3 linked regions of the Homo sapiens genome follow. The protein of the gene in region 1 purifies or fractionates together with the protein of each later gene. This does not show direct contact. Each region holds a gene or a part of one and is shown on either strand. Other genes may lie near its edges.

Region 1 (7,183 bases):
TCATCCCCACCCCGCTACAACTAACCAAAGTACACAAATCCTCTTTTTGCAGTATCCCTTGCATTCATTTCCTCTTTTCCATCCCTAAGGTCAATACTTCAAAAAAAGCCTCTAACTGGTCTCCAATTCATGGTATTATACTCCGCTGCCAAAAGACTTTCTCTTGAACTGGATACAAATTTCTCAATCTGATATTTGAAGTCCTCATTAATGCAGCTCAAATCCTTCCTTCTAGTCTCTCAGCATGCTTGCTAACTATGACCTGCTGGTGAGCCAAATTGACTACAGGGCCCCTAACATACCTTATACTGTCTCACGGGTTTCCTCACTCCTGCTTCACATGGATGTACATTCTCTATGCTCCCCACTGGCCAAAAGTCTACCCTTCCTCCAAAGCCCAAGTTAAACACAACCTTCTTCATTAAACTCATCTTGCTATAATCTAAACGTGATTTTTTCTGCCTCTAAACTCAAAGGAAATGTTATTTAGAATTTTCTTAGGGCTCCTATCACATACAACCTTGCATCTGTGGATTGTGGATATTTGTCTTTCACACCAGTTTTCTTCTACGTTATCTGAAAGCAGAAGCTTTGACAGTCACCTTACATTTCGAATAGACACTGCCACAGGATCCTGCATTCAGTAAACACCCCAAAAACATTTGTAAATTTTAACAGACTATTTACAAAAGTAGCTCCTACTTGAATTTAAGACACAAAGCATACAAAATCAGCTTTGAGCTTTCAGTATATTGATATTCAAGCAGGCAAGGTAAGCACCTGAGCTTATAAAACAAATCTCTAACTTTAGAAGGAAAAATAACTTGTTAACCAAGGGAATATGGTAGATAGTGCACAAATACAAACCACACTCACTTCATTTTCCTGGGCAAGTCTTAAAATTTCATCGAGTGTTACAAACGTATCATTTCCTCTGACTGCATCTTTCTCCATAAATCCAAGATGAATATCTGTTGCAACTAATATTTTAAATGTGTTTTCATCATCACTATATTAAGAAAGAAGAAACATTTCAATATATTAATAATTCATTAAAGGATATTCAAACAAATTGAGACAAACTTATAAAATAAATAATAACAGTTATAGAGTAAAATCATTTTTTTTAGCCTTAGAGTTCATCTGAAAATCTGAAGTATTCAACGTTATCATTAACATTACAGTTTTCCTAACCACTAGTTCAATACAGAACAAATGTACATAAATCTTTACAAGGTTCTATAACTGCTTCAAAAATTTATAACCTTGTTATAACCAGTTTTACAAACTCATGTAACCCAGGCCCAAAAGTTTGCTTGTTTTCCTCAGATAAATAAACTTGTTATTTATCTGACTTCGTACTCTTCCAGGAAAATCGAAGTTAATTTAAAAAGCCTTCCTCTAAGTTTATGAGTCAATTTTATACTAATATGCAATAATTTACATTCAGGGCCTTGAAGACACTTGCATGACTCTACTCTCTACAGAGTTAGATTTCATTAATAAAGTTGGCCAACACAGAATTGTTTCAATTTGAATTTGGTAATATTCAAAGGTACTTTAATGTGAAGTAGCAATGTAATAGTTATTAATACTCTTACACTAAATTTAATTGTATGAAATACTTTTATTTTTATGATCTCATCTCAACCCTCACAGATAAAGAGTCAGGCATTATTATCTCTGACAAATGAGAAGGCTAAACCCAGAGAAATTAACTGCTTTATCACATAACTAGTGACAGAAACAGGACTAAAACCCATGATGAAAACTCAGGCTATTTTCAATAAACCACAATGAATTTTTAAAAAATCTCTGTATATATCTCCAAAATTCAAATCTTTACAAACAAAAGATATTTCCACAAACGATTTCTCTTCAAAAACTTCAAAAATGATATGCACACAGTTCTCACTGATATATCCAAGAAGGTAGGTCAGATACTTTTCAAATCATAATACTACATGTTTCTGTAGCAATTTATGAAGTATTTTCTCATGAATTCTCTCATTTAAGCCTCAAAATTAATCTGAAAAAGGTATAATTATTCCAATTATACCAATGGCAAAATTGAGGCAAGGCTCAGAGAACTGCTGACTTGCCCAAGGTCACACAGCTAGTAGGGTCCAAGGACTTGAAACTAGGGTAAAAGACTCCAAGTCTAAAGTCTTTCCCACATAACTTTTTTTTTTTACGATCTCGGCTCACTGCAACCTCCGCCTCTCGGGTTCAAATGATACTCCTGCCTCAGCCTCCTGAGTAGCTGGGATTACAGGCATGCGCCACCACGCCTGGCTAATTTTGTATTTTTAGTAGAGACGGGGTTTCACCATGTTGGTCAGGCTGGTCTCCAAATCCTGACCTCAGATGATCCCGCTAGCCTCGGCCTCCCAAAGTGCACATAACTTTTACAGTCCTTTTATTTATTCCCATTCCATTCAAATTCATTTCCAGCTTATTTAATACTAGAGGAATTTACTCTAAAAATCTTAAACAGAACTGCATTGACTAATAAGAATTTGTCAGGAAAATTCAAGAATATTTATCACTTCAATAATTTAAGATGAAGCCTAAGAACATAAACAATACTATATCAATATATCAAATTACTGCAAGACTCCAATCTATAGCTGCATATTAGCTTCCAGTTAACAAACAGATAAATATTTAAAACATTCCAAATACCCTTTTTGATGACTAATATTTCTGTTCATAAACAGGTTCCTTATTTACTGCTTATTAAATAAGTTTTCTTTTACTGTGATCACAGTTGACGAGCTTTAGAAACCCCAAATAACAAGGGATTCCAGAAGTCAGGTGCTTACAGTGCATCTGCAGTACTCATTTTTATGGTCAGTCAAGCTCCTCTGGGACCAGGTTCTTCTCCAAGAACCCCTGGGTACTGTACTCAAATGTCAGAAAATGCACTCGATTCCAAATTCTAGAAATTCTAAAAACAAAATTACATCATAAAACACATTTTTTAAAAGCCTGCACGTATTTAACCAACATGATTTACGCTGCACAAGGTACAGACGTCTTAATTAGACTGGCAAATTTAGAAGTCTCATTTTCATCTAAGCACCCACTATACTTTTTTTTAATGAACTGAGCATAGAAAATAATATATCTCCAGTGTACATCCTGTTTCCTAGTTTCACCAAGATGATTAAACTCCTATTTTCCTTTCCCGTGCTCTTATGGGAAATTAATGTATGCTAAATAAATGGGCAGAAAGGGTCACATACGGTTCTGGTTCAACACACAAACAACTCTAGATGTGCAGATATTTTTAAGTTGCACGCATAGGTTACTCTGGAGAACAGAGGCAATCCTGTATTTCCTATTCAAACCCCACGATTTTTTTTAAAGGACCTGGCTAGTTTGGAAAAGGGAACGGGCCCGCGTTTAAAGCGAGTGTAAATAAACAAACACGTGGTCTGCGGAGGAACACCTTTAAGCACCAGCAGGATGACTGAAAATAGCCAGGTTTGGGGAAGAGTGGCTGCCACCGCGAGACAACCCCCACCACATCTGGAGCTCCAGATTCCGTCGGGATTCCAAGCCTCAACACGCCCTCACCGCAGGGAACCTCGGAATCAGAACGCTGAGCCCGCCAGGACCCCTCCCCTGCCCACTCGGCCCGCTCTTCCCGAGGTTCCAGTTAACTCTGGGCTTCCGCCTGGGAACCTGCAGAAACAGGAGACGAATGCGATTCCTAAATTACCCCACTGCTGGACTCTTCGAAGCCCCACAATCGCGACCCAAGGCTGTCTTCTTTTCGGGAAGAAAGGGCAGGATCCGTGAAAAGAAAACAACACGGTCTGAACTTGCCTCTGAGAACCCGCAGGGCCGTAAACCTGAATTCCGCGGGAGAGAACGGCGTCCGTTTCTCTCGCGACACTTCATGGATAACGTAGATGCTTCAAGTCCAGTTCGGCTCTCATTGGCTACCGCACGCAGTGAGGGGGCGGGGAAAGTAGCGGCGAGGCCCCGCCCTCACGCAGGAGCCAATCCTGAGCAGGCTAGGAGACGAACCCGGAAGTGAGATGCAAGGCGGCGATTTTCCCTTCTGTCAGGTGGGTTGTTATTCCCTGTCCCGGACCTCGCTTTTTGATGGACCGGCGCCATCTAAGAACTCCTGAGCCCGTGGGGGTGGGTAGCCTGTGGACACAGGCCGAGCCCTGCAGGTCAGGCCGCTTCGTGGTCCCCAGGTAGGACCGAAGCCGCTTCTCCGCTCTTGGCTGTTTGGAAGGCCGCAGGCGGAGCTCACGGGCCTGTGAGCTCCCGGCTGGTGGCAGAGTGCCGGAGCTGGATCCCCTCTCCCTCCCTCCCAGTCGCCAGACCCTCTACAGGTGTCGCCCCTAGGTCCTTGAGTTCAGCACATCTGCACTGCTTTGTGCTGAGAGCAGTAAGATGTATAGTGCAGCGAAAAATAATGTAGAACTTTTGAATTAGAACGTCTGCCCTTTCAGTTCCATTGAAGGGTCCTTGATCTAGGGCAAGTTGTTTTAATCTATCTGAACCTCCTTCACCAGTAAGGTTTATAGCCCCGCCTATCACTGAGTTGTTTGTAAGGAGTTGACATAGTTCGGATCTCTCTCAAAATAGGATATGCCCTTTAAGTTAGGAAACATACCCTGACATTCCTGATGGAATATCAGGAATATCATCATCAAGTCATCAGTTTTGTTTCTTAACTGTAAGTCGGGTAGATGCGCCTAGGCTTGGCTTTTTAAACTAAATATACCAGTAAAATTTTGTACATAATTTTTTGTATCTGGATCTGTAAACTCAAAATTTATATAAAGGGAGTTTTTATTGAAAGGAAAAGCATGTTGGGGGAGAGGGTAAGATCTGTGGTATAAGGTTACTATATTTGATATAATTACAAGTGAACTTTTATTTATTAGCATCTGTTAAGTGTTTAATGAATTGATGTATGGTCATTTTTGTGTTGCAAGGTTCAGGAATTAGTTTGAGAATCAAAGAAAAAGTGGAAGCTCCAGGAGAATTAATAAAACACAGAGCAATTCTGATTGGATATCTCTGATTCCAAGGGTGTCTCTGATTGGGTGACTGAAAAGCCGGATTGGCCTTAGGAATACTTTAGTAAAATTCTTACATTTTACAATAAAGTAACAGGACCAGAAAAGTTACTGGACATGAGTAATACATTTAAACTTGAGTTTAGTGCTATTGCCACTAGTAATAAAGTTTAATACCACATTAAGATTGTATACTGTTAAACTTGTGAGATTAGGTATCAAGAAATCAGTATCTTGGGGTTATGCCTAACTCTGGAACTTCTCAGAATCCATTCCAGGCAAAATCAAGTGACAAGACTTTAATTAAATGTAATGCTACACATACTTCTTAATGCCTTCTATAGACAAGTAGGAGATAAATATAAGTTAAATGTGGTCCTTATCTTTCAGCTTATAATCTTTTAAGGGGCTAAAACAAGAACAAAGTTAGAGGTGAAATGTAGCACCAAAAAAAGTAGAAAGCAGAAAGCGATCTAAATGAGAGGATCAAGAAAGAATGAAAGAGATAACATCAGAGAAGAGCCTTGAAAGACTGATTATATTTCAACAAATAGAGTTGAGAGGCTGGGAATTCGTATTTGTAAATTATCTATTGGTTATTCTCCTTTTCTTTAATTGATTAAGGTTTATATGTTGTGTAACCCTTTAAGCTGATATTGGTTTAAAAATTAATATGGCAGCTTAGCAGAATAAACATCAGTTCCTTCAGGAAGCCTTCTTTAATCCCTTAGGACTAGGGGAATTATGAACCTCCTGTATACTCATGGTTTCTAGACAAGGTCTTGTAGTAGTACTTATCATGTTGTCTTTGCCAGACACATGATGTCTTTGCCAGTCACCTACACTAGAGTAAGCTTCCTGAGGTGAAGACATGGATCTTGCTCATTATTGAATCCCAGTACCCAGAAGTTGGCACATACCAGACATTCTATTCATATTAGTTGAATGAAGGAATGAATGACAGCCAAAATTCAGTTGAAAACAAGGACCCAACTAAGAACTATAGTTGCCTATCAATAAACAGGACTACTTTTTAAAGCAGTGAATTTTCCTAGGCCTGAAATTATCAAAGTAGAAATAGGATAATTAGTGTAGATGCTGTGATAAAGATATATGTACCGATGACAGATTGGAACAGATGTCCTTTTGGGGGCTATTCCATCTTCAAGAATCCCTGATTCTTCGAAATAGTATTTTTAGGAATTAGAAGTTTTTATTTCTGCTCTATATTATCTGTGTGTCTAGTTTATAAAAATCTTGAATGCACCTGTCTTCATTGTATTAGTTATACTTCAAAACCTTTAAGCATTCATCACTGTTAGCATAACACCATCATACCTAAACCAGTAGATTAAAAATAATAGTTATAATAATATAATTGACTTAGAAGAAAACAACAAAAGTAAGAAGCATTAGACCACTATTAGATCATAGTTTGTTGTTTTCTGTCAGCATCAGTATTTAGTGTATGTAAGGGATATCATGAGAAAAACAAGAGTTTAGACAGGGTTTAATTGTATATGTTTGCAAGACTTATCTATGCAGTTGATAAAGCCTGAATTATTGTTTTACTAATAACTTTTGTATTTGTGTTTTCAGATCTTGATGAACAAAGCAGTCATAATTCATCTCTAGAAAGATTTATATCCTGGCATTTGAAATGCTTTTTATTTAGAATAGTAGTAAAAAATGGAAAAAGAAAAAGGAAATGATGATGGAATACCAGACCAAGAGAATTCCTTGGATTTTTCTGAACACTTTAACCAACTTGAATTGTTGGAAACACATGGACACCTTATTCCTACTGGTACTCAAAGTCTTTGGGTAGGCAATTCTGATGAAGATGAGGAGCAAGATGACAAAAATGAAGAGTGGTATCGATTGCAAGAAAAAAAAATGGAAAAAGACCCAAGCAGATTGCTTCTTTGGGCTGCTGAAAAAAATCGGGTAAAAAAAAAAATTACAGAGGGAAGTGTGACAGTAGGAAAAGCACTGGGTTCAAGCCAGAAGACCTGCCTTTACTGTTATGGCCATCATACCTATCTCTTGATTGTGAGGACCAAATGAGACAATGTACATGAAAGCACATATTAAGCTGCAAAGTGTCATGCTAGGTATTATTTGGGGGTTTAAGG
Region 2 (7,000 bases), on another chromosome or scaffold:
CTCCTACCCTAGACCCACTGAGTTAGAAATTCCACAGGAAGGGCCCATCACTTCGGGTTTTAACAAGCCCTCCAGGAGATTCGGAGATTCTGACTCATCCTCAAGTTTGAGAACCATGGCTTGAAGATAATATTTTATGCCAGTAACATTTTAGACTTTCGTAACAGAGAGATACCCAATATGTTGTCTAATGCTGGCAGCCTAAGATCCTTTTGGGACAAGGGCAGGGGAAACAAAGTCAAATACAATAAATTTCTGCTGCTGGTCTTGTAGGGTGGAATGATTGATTTTGTATTCTGGTTGTGTTCCTGGGGCCAGTACTAAACGTACCTTTCATTTGAAATAAAGCTGGAACCATTAGAAACAGAGGAAGTTTTATCTTAGAGAAACTCCAGCATAACGCTTGAGTCACCTTTTGTGGCTGGGCATAAAATTTGTGAGTAGGAACAGAGAGAGAGGAGAGGAGGAAAGGGAGAAGAAGGGTAAATGATTCAGTAGCTATGAAAAGCATACATTTTGTTGCTGATATCTACCATACCTTCATAAACACACTTCTAATTTTCACAATTCCCCTGCAACACAGCAAACCATTACCATTAGGGTAATTAACTACTAATAAGCCTCTAGTTTGTGAGAGATGCCACCAGCAAATAAAGGTTGCAATTTGAGTAATTTCCAAGTGACAGCAAGCTTCACAGCCATCCTATAACATAGACACAATCATTATTCTCATTCTATATCTATGAAAACTGAGCTTCAACAGGTTAAGCAGAGCTGAAATTCAAACCTAGGAATTCCTGACTTAAAATTTATGCCATTCACCAATACACAATCTTACCTACCTACATACAACACACAGAATAGTCTTGCAAATATAGTGGAGCACATTTGAGGTGAGGACTGTGATTTAAAGTCAATGCGTAAAGTACAACACACACGTAGTCAAAATAATCCTTGAAAAATATTATAAATTTTTCATGAAGTACAATATATGTTGTATTACAGATACAACTATGTGCAGTAGTAATATGTCATACAACTTCATATATCAATTTGGATGATATGATAAAGTCAATAATCAAAATATAATAAGAATATTTTTAATAAATGAGAGCAGGCGTAGAATAGATTTTGAGTAAGTTAAAAGCATGCTTTGCCTGGATGCAGGATATTTGCTAAGGGAATGGAGATGCACCCAGAGTGACAGAGGGAGTATCCTATGTGCCAAAAAAGTTCTAGGTTCTCTGGAGTCATATCAAGAAGTGTGATATACAACTGCTACTTGGAAAAGCTTGCAACATGCTACAGACATGGTCATATCTATGAATAACCATGTTACAAGGCACACAATGCAGGGGCTGAAGCATAGCCAGGCCAGGAGAGGGTATGGTAAAGAGAATTAACTTCAACTTGGAGAATCCAAGCCCAAGAAGCAAAGATCTTATGAAGCATGGACTGGATAAATGTGCCCTGGTCTGAATTGGAATAGGGATACCCTAAATTTCATTCCTCTTCCTCCCAGTTGCCAGTGCTTTGACAACTGACCAAATTATTTATAAAACAGTACTATTAATATCTAACCCACAGAATATACACTTCTAGTGACTGTGTATGTATTTATATTTATATAATTAAATAATTTTATTTTTCTGCAAGATAAATGCATATTATCTGAAATAAATTAACATTACTTTTTAAAAGAAGTACTATATCCCACTTTAAATCTTCTCAGGATGGATGGAGAGCAAGGTTGGGAAAGTAGGAAAAAAACATTGAGTGCATACATACAGTGAGTCAAGGCCTCTCTTCTGCCTTATAGCCTTATATATATGGTTTAATCTCCATTTTTACAAATGAGGAAATAGGGACAGGTTTAGTAATTTCCCCAAAGCAAAACAGCTATTAAGTGCCAGAGCCAGCGTTCAAACTAAGTATGCTTACTTTTAAAGCTTAAGCCCTTATCATAACAAAACTTAACACATATTTGTCTTTATCAAACTGCATTGCAACCCTGTGATTTCTTGGCACATTTCCTGATATGAGTGAGGAAGAAAGAAACAGCTTATTTCATTCAGTCAACCAAAAGTTTTTGAGCAACTACTAGGTACCTAGCACTGTTTGGGGTTCAGTTGTGAGCAAGACAGAGAGAGTTCTGACCCCCTGAAGCATGAAGTGGAGAGGAGAGAGGAGTGTGGTGTGGCATGGGCCAGAGAAGAACCCCAGGCCCAGGAGTGAAGAAGCCTTTATTCTCACTGCTGTAACTAGGCCACCAACGAGCTTGAGCAAGTCACTTCACCTTGCTGAGTCTCTTTTTTCTTATCTGGAAAATGGGAGGGGTGTGCATAATTTTATGGGATTGCCAAGTTCTCACATTCTCTTATTCCATAAGAGGCATTTATTTTCCCATCTTTTTAAAATTAAATCAGGTTAGGAGCTATCATGAGTGTTATTAGTTGCCAAAAAATCAACTATTTCCACTCTTTTCCTCTTATCGTGCCTTTTCTCCAATACAATTCACAATCAGTCAAGTCACAGGACGTAAAGGCCACCAAGCAAAAGAAATCTGACAATGGCTTCTCGGGAGCTCTGCAGTCTACCTGGCCAGATAACGTTAACACACATGATCAAAGGTGTCCATCCCTAGTTTCACATTAGCACAATGTCAGGTGCAAAACTCCTTGACTTTTGCCACTGAAATTTATATCTCTGAGTTACCTGTTGAATCAACTGCTCCGAAGATAACAAAGACATCACCTCAGTCATCTTGCAATGCTAGTGGCTACTAACATCTTAAAAGCCTTCTTTGTCTTTAATGATAATGATAAAGTATTGTTTTGGGCCATTCTATTGCCCTTATTATTTTTCATTTTTATGGATATTTGTATGAAATACACCTTTCAATATTTTTAAAACAGAGTTCTTATTTAGATTGTTTCAGACCCATCACTTAATGGTAAAGGTTCTTGGTTATATTTCTATTACATTTCCTTCCAAATCATTTTCTGTTTAAATGAATTAAGTCAATGATTTAGGCATTTACTTCATGATATTGATGAAATTACTACATACAGGGCATGGTGCAAGTTGATTAGATTTTAGAATCTCTATTAGCGCTGTTAAGAATACATACAAACCAAAGTGCCTGCTGAATGAGATGCCACCCCCTCCACTTCTCCCTCAAAATTACCTTCTGTCCACCTGTTTCCTTGAAATACAGGGAGAGGAAAAACACCTTAGTATAACAGGACTTGTAAAGGACCACTTCCCAGGTCCTTTGAGACAAACCAAATATCTCCTTCTTTATCTCTTACCTAGCATCATTTGTTCATCTTTCTCCTCACACTTAACAGCACAATTTCAATGTTTCTTTTCACCAGTCTGCCTGTGCCTCAAGTTTTTATGTTTATCCCCAGTGCCTAGCACAGCTTTTGACATAAATGCTGTGACCAATTATTATTCAACAGATAGATGAATGAGACCCTTCTGCTGAGGGGGAAGGGGTAAGAGATGGGGGAAGGGATAAGAGATGGGAGAAGAGGCCCATTTAAAAATAAAATGGTGATAGCAAATAACAATCACAGTGAACCTGTGTTAAGCTCCTATTGTGTGCCAAGCATTGTATATATTATTGCTAACCTTTAACAAAAAGGAAAAATGGCGAAAGTAATTTTATTTTCTCTTCTTATAGATCTGCACTGTTTCAATAGGGTAGCCACTACCCACATAGGAGCATTAAGCACTTAAAATGTGGCAAATCTGAATTAAAATGTGCTGTAAGTATAAAAATACATGCTAGATTTCAAAGATTTAGTACTAGAAAAAAAAGAATGTAAAATATCTCAATAATCTCTATATCGATTACATGATTTTTTAAAATTTTGTGTTAAGTAAAATATATTCTTAATTTTTCTTTTTTTTTTTTTTAAAGGGTGAAGTTTGGGGAGAACTCCCAAGAGAATGGGCACAGGAAGTAGCATTTATCTACGCACTAAAATGCCAGACACTTTTAAACACCTCACATTTACAACAATTACTAGCCCCATTTTCCAGATCCTAATACTCGGGTTAAGTGATTCACCCAAATGCCTGGATCTTGAAAACTGTAGCCCAAATTTAAACAAGGTATTTCCGGATTCAGAGTTCTTCTGATAACAGGCCCAAGTGTAAGGAAACAAAGGGCGATCAGACCCCAGAAAGGCCTGTCACGAGGAGTTTTGAGAGTAGTCAGACTGTCCAGCCGCGGAGCAACCTAACCAGGCACTGGAAGACACCACCAGATGCTCAGGGCAAAACCTTTTGTCCCCTCTCCGCAGCGAGGCAATCCAGGCCGGAGAGTCAGATGCACCTGAGAAAACCAATATCCCCAGGGCATATCTTGGGGTTGGGTCAAACTCCATTCCTTATCCTAGAAGCCCTGCTTATGGGTCCCGGAGGTTGACTCTGCTAGTGCTCCGGCGCCCTCTAGCGATTGTCCATTCCAATGCCAGCTCTCTCTAGTCCGTCCTTCTAGACTCACCAGCTCCTAGGGCTTGCCCTGCCGTGGACCCCTGCCAGCCTGATTTTGCTCCTCCCCTACCTCAAGGTGCAATGAATTGCCCTACACTTGGATAAGAAAGAGGTCTTCTGGTCAATAAGCCTTAAACCTGAGCTTTCTAAAGTTAATCCGAAATACTGTATTTTCCCCCTGACATTTCCAAGGAGAAATTTCTCTAGTTTCCTAAGTAATAAGAAAAACAAAGTTAGAAATACTGTGTTCTGAGCCAAAGATGTAAAAGCAACATTTAAGAAAGTTTGTTCTTTTTGAATGACGCTTTAATTTAAAACAGAATAAAGGATTCCCCTGTGTGTTCCTGGAACTGTAAACACTCATAAACTCTCTTTGTTTACTTTATTGACTCAATTGTGACATTTAAAATAGAAAGCTAAGTCTATGCATGAGCAATTTTTTACAGAACATGCACATTAACAGAGATGGCTGCAGACAATGACTTTGTACAAATTCAATCACATTTATTGGGTAAATATTGCACTGGCTCCAAGAGACAGCAATGTAATAAGTCCCAAGCCTACTCCTCCTAACACTCTAATGGAGGTGGGAGACACCCCCGCAATCATCCCTAACTCATACTTAATAAAGATCAGCAGTGCACATGGTGCCAGAGATTGGCTCCACTGCTGTAATTATCTCCAGGGAACTTGAGTTTCTTTATGAGGGGAGTAATCAGAAGGGTTGTTGAATGAGTCTCCTGATTTTGAGAAGTCACTTATTTGAGCTTTAGTTTCCACATTTGTCAAATTAAATTGCTAGAGTCAGCAGATGATCCCCAAGCTCTCTTCCAGTTCTGAGAGTCATAGAACATGCACATTAACGGAGATGGCTGCAGACAATGACTTTGTACAAATTCAATCACATTTATTGGGTAAATATTGCACTGTTGAAAGTTGCTGATCACAGTTTAGAGATGAGTCCATCACAGATCAGCTTAAATGGGCTCCCCTTCCAGCCCTATGACTAAAATAATAGGACTGGAATAAACTTTCCCAAAGAAGGCATCCTTATCACTTTCTTATTTTTGAGACTTGCCTTCCAACCCTCAATATTTACTGAGCTAAAAGCTGATGGTTCCCAAGAGGGTTTCCAAAGAATACAGCAGACAAATAAAGGACTTCCCAGGATGTGCTGATTTAGGAGAAAATATATCCAATATATCACATATATTTAGTAGTTCATACAGCAAACAGAAAGCTCCCACATAACTGCAGTTTCTAGTACAGAAAAAGAAAACCTGAAAGTATATGTAGGCACTAATATGTTTTTATTATGCAGTCACAAGTTTAGGAGATATTCACTGAGTTTAACACTAATTGAGGCCTTACTATAGACTATTTCAAATAACATAGAAAAGATGATGCATCTTACCTGACCCATTTATTGTGCTTGATTTTTGGATTTACCATCAACTATCACATAAATACTTTATCCAAAAAATGGATGTGTAACCCCAACCTAAATTATTATCATAATGTGCTTCCCTGAAAAGAAAATATTATAAGATTTTGGGGACATCTTAAAAAGAATTAAAATCAGTAATCTATTCTTTGCCATCTACATTCAATCAGGAGAAAGGCAACTGTATTATTACATGTTGGAAGATCAGTTTTAATGCACCAAAGAATGGTCTTGAACTATGTGACATTTTATTTTGAATGCATTTAAATTTTTCTATTTTGATATTTTGTAAATCTAGTGTACTGGCTACTGTTGCCAAGGAAATATGACTTTGGGTTACTGAATGGATCTGCAAAGGTTTTTGTTTTTCTTTTAAAATATTAACAAGACAAAAATGGAAAGATCAAATATGGAACACAAATTTAGCCCTTTCTCTCTTCAAAGTGCACGGAATACAGATCTTCTTACACACCACTGATTAAAAAATACAAAGATGCATGAAGTGATTTTTCCCAACTAGTGTAGAGACTTTTACCCAATTAGCCAAGTTGATATCATCAGAGTACCTGTCTCATTCTTTGTTCTGGATTCAGACCACTCTGAAAATGTGTGGTATTGATTACACACAACACTGACGGCTCATCTTCAATAAGTTCATCTCTAAATGAAAAGATCCTTTCTTTATGTGGATAAAGGTAACATAATGTTCTAGGGTGTTACATTTCAAAGAATTTTCGAAGTGAAGTCAGAAGAAGGCATAGTGCAAACCTTATAAATGTGTTCAGTATTAATTCCAAAAGATTCAAATACATATGAGAATAAAGATTCCACCATTAACCCATTTTTTTTGGTCTGTGATTGTTTCTTATAGTCAGTATAACCTCAAGGTTTTAAGTCATAATAATGGGCTTGAATAATCTAATTATTTAAAAGAATCAAAGCTTTTTTCTATTGTTTTGGAATATTACATAAAACTTCTCTATAAACAGATAACATCTTTACTTCCTACTAACTGAAATGAGGTATTTTTAATTAGAAATACACAAGCAG
Region 3 (3,243 bases), on another chromosome or scaffold:
TCCTCAGTGGGGAGAGACTTGCCAAATCTCTATCGCCAGCGGCTAAGGGACTTGACTTGAAGCTTGTACCTCCCTCTCTCTCCCTCCCCCTCTCTCCCTCCCCACCCTCAAAAGACAAGTGTGCCATTTGACCATCTCGGGAAGTGAGGAGAGCCCCCATTGGACCAGTGTTTGCTTAGGTGAGTCCATGACTGCTGCAGATGCAGCCAGCCCAGCCGACCTAGAAGCTCCCAGGGCCCCAGAAAGAGACCAATGTGTTGTGGAGGGGTGGGTGGCAGTGGCAGTGGCAGATGGTACCAGGCGCCCCAGAACTCTAAGGGGCCTCAAGTAGTTTAAAACCTCGGAGGCTGCCTGACTTGGGGCCAAGGGTTTCTATGCTCAGGCCTGACCCCTCATGGATTAGTTTCTGCTGGAAAAACTTTTTCTGCCCTCGGCCAGGTCTCTATCTCCTTCTGCCTTAACATATTTTGGAAGGTTGGTTCCCAGCAGAGACGGGGCCATGGGCTCACACTCTGACCTCTCCCACGGCATTAGCCCTGTCTCAGCCTCTGGGCTGTTACGCAAGTTAATTCCTGCACAAGACTCACAACAGGGCTGTGGAGGAAGCAAAGGAGCCCTTTTTATGCCTCTGTAGTAGGACTGAGAGAGGCCCTCTGGCCAGCGTGAGCCTGCTGGTTCTTCCCGGACTGTACCAGGCCTTGAGGCGGGGTATGGAAACGCCCCACTCTGGGGCCTGGCTTGGGGAAGGGGAGGCGGCAGGGGTTCTTTGGGCTTCTCGAGGGTATAATCTGAGCTCTCTGGGGAACGTGTGTCCATTTGTAGGCAGTAGTCCGACACGTCGGGGGACTCAACTTTACACTGGGACAATCTGTGTGTGGTCTGTTTTGTAGAAATTCATCCACACAAGAGAGTGGAGGCATGAACAGGGCTGGCCTTCCTCGGATCTCAGGCCCAGGAACCAAGCTGTCCATGGCGGGCTGGGCAGATATTTGGGGGTGGGGTGGGGAGATGCTCACCAGGAGGGCAGAGAAGGGAGAGAATCCGTTTCTGTCACATGAAGATGGATCTCCTAGCGTGCTGGGCCTTGAGCCAGGCTCTGGGGCCCAGAGGGAGATAGACCAAGGGACGAGAAGACAGGAGTTTGGGGGGCCAAGTGCAGTGGCTCGCACCTGTAATCCCAGCACTTCGGGAGGCCCAGACAGGTGGGTCACTTGAGGTCAGGAGTTCGAGACCAGCCTGGCCAACATGGTGAAAACCCATCTCTACTAAAAACACAAAAATTAGCCGGGTGTGGTGGCACACACCTGTAATCTCAGCTACTCGGGACGCTGAGACAGGAGAATTGCTTGAATCTGGGAGGTGGAGGTTGCAGTGAGCCGAGATCGTGCCACTGCACTCCAGCCTGGGGGACAGAGCGAGACTCCATCTCAAAAAAAAAAAAAAGTAGCCAGAGACAGCTGTGTACCTCACCTGTCTTTTCCCTTCTCCCTTCTAGTGTCTTCACTGTATTTTCTTTAAAAAAAAAAAAAAAAAAAAAAAGGCAAAAATAAACCACTCAAAAGAACAACAAAAAAACCCAGCACAAAACCGACGATGGAGTTTGTTTCTTTGATTTCTTTGCCAATGGCAAGAAGATGAGATGCCCTCAGCACTGAGGATTCTTGCCCCCTTGTGGTGCCCGCTGCCCCCAACCTTCAGGCTGCCAGATGCTCCCCTGACAACACCAGGCTACAGGAGCCAGACGCCAGGGCCTGCCCGGCCTCCTGTTCCTGCCCCCACCCACCACCTGCCTGGAGAGGAACGGGTCGGGTCCGTGTCGGAGAAGTGACAGGTCCCAGAGCCAAAGCCGGCCCTCAAGCATCATCAGGGAGTGGTGTAGTCAGTTGAAGGCAGTTCCCACCGAGTTTTCCGAGCCTCAGAATCCAGGAGATACGCACAGCCCCACCCACTCTGAGATGACAGTGGCTGACTTCCCGTGCTGGGCTTTTCCATTGTCCCCCTGGCCTCCAGGCTCCTCCTCTGCCTCTCCATGGAGTGGGTGGGGAGGTGGTGGGGGCCGGCGTCCCCTGCGTGTGTGTGTGTGTGTGTGTGTGTGGATGTATTGACCTGTGTTTCCCAAGACAGCAGGTGCCACGGCCCGCCCCGCCTGCCAGCCCGAATTCCCGTTCTCCTGTGTCTACTAACAAGGACATGGGGGTGGGCGGTGACCTCCGCATCCCTCAGAGCTCAGAGGGTCCTCGCTGCCACCGGTCCCCCCCTAGCCCGTCATCAGCCGGTGGCAGCTCCATCTTCCATTCCTGGTTTTAGGGCAGAATCCATGGAGACTGCTTCCAGAAGGCATCTGGCTCTGAGTTATAAATTACTTCCCTGGTCCTGACAGTCACCTGGGGTCCCCCCTCTCCCTGGTTCCACCTTTCTGAGGAGGAGCCTGGAGTCAGGGCTGGGTTTTGGATTAACCCATCCTTCCTAGTTAACACCTTTTTGTTTTTATTTTATTTTATTTTTGTTTGTTTTCTCCGTGTGTGTGTTTTCCTAATTTATTTACCTCTGTTTCCCCTTTTTCCTTTTTTTTTTTAATTAAAGAGCAAAGCTTTTTATTACTTTGTAATTTAAAAAACTGAAAAAAAAAAAACTGAAGAACTTTGGGGGGAATTTTGTACTTTTTTCCTGTGTAAATATTGGACTTTTTTGAGCTTTATCGTGGTTGTTAATTTGAAGTAATAAAGTAGAAAAGATAAAGTGATGCAGGCAGCCCTTTGTCCACCTCTGTGCCCTTAGGGCCTCTCCCTGCAGACCCGGAAGTGGGTCTTGCTGGGAGCAGCAGGAGTCAGTGAGGAACAAGCCCTCGCCCTGAAGGCAGGTGTGGCTGGGGCCACTTTCAGAACACTTGGGCTGTGGTTGGGATGTCCGGGGGCTTTGAAAACACGAGTGCACACAGGTGCCACGCCACAGGTGCCACGCGGGGGTCTTGTAAAGAGGGCTGGGGTGGGGCTGAGAGCTTCCCCCTGCACACTCCAGGTGTGCTGATGGCCTGGGGCCCCTCTTTGAGAAGCAAGGCCCTAAAAGCTCTTCACACATGATTTTATCCACACAAGTATCCTGAGTTAGGTCCTGTTAATAGCCCTGCCTTCGGACAAGAAACTGGTCCTGCTGTAAAATATCTTGCCCACAGTCACAGCTCTGGTGGCAGAGGCAAGACGAGCCGAGGTCATCTCGCTGTGGGGGTTGTGGGGGTGCTCTGAC

Evidence for each region. The genes of interacting proteins can lie anywhere in the genome.
Region 2: the proteins of ANKRD49 (region 1) and CPNE4 purify together in Homo sapiens (affinity purification with mass spectrometry; 2 studies listed by BioGRID and IntAct, with this or other methods). This does not show direct contact.
Region 3: the proteins of ANKRD49 (region 1) and CSNK1E purify together in Homo sapiens (affinity purification with mass spectrometry; 3 studies listed by BioGRID and IntAct, with this or other methods). This does not show direct contact.

What each region holds. Positions count from the first base shown.
Region 1 is NC_000011.10:94,489,957-94,497,139, forward strand, and holds the start of ANKRD49 (ankyrin repeat domain-containing protein 49), read left to right. Parts: upstream 1-4,027; 5' UTR 4,028-4,079; exon of another isoform or gene 4,080-4,214; intron 4,215-6,647; 5' UTR 6,648-6,737; coding exon 6,738-6,995; intron 6,996-7,183. Other genes in the region: double-strand break repair protein MRE11, read right to left, coding at 877-1,009, 2,826-2,845. UniProt on the Homo sapiens protein: Induces HBG1 expression. May have a role in spermatogenesis where it promotes autophagy in response to serum starvation, via the NF-kappaB pathway.
Region 2 is NC_000003.12:132,025,015-132,032,014, forward strand, and holds part of CPNE4 (copine-4), read right to left. Parts: intron 1-7,000.
Region 3 is NC_000022.11:38,290,191-38,293,433, reverse strand, and holds the end of CSNK1E (casein kinase I), read left to right. Parts: intron 1-114; coding exon 115-147; 3' UTR 148-179; intron 180-1,495; 3' UTR 1,496-2,743; downstream 2,744-3,243. Other genes in the region: TPTEP2-CSNK1E (casein kinase I), read left to right, coding at 115-147.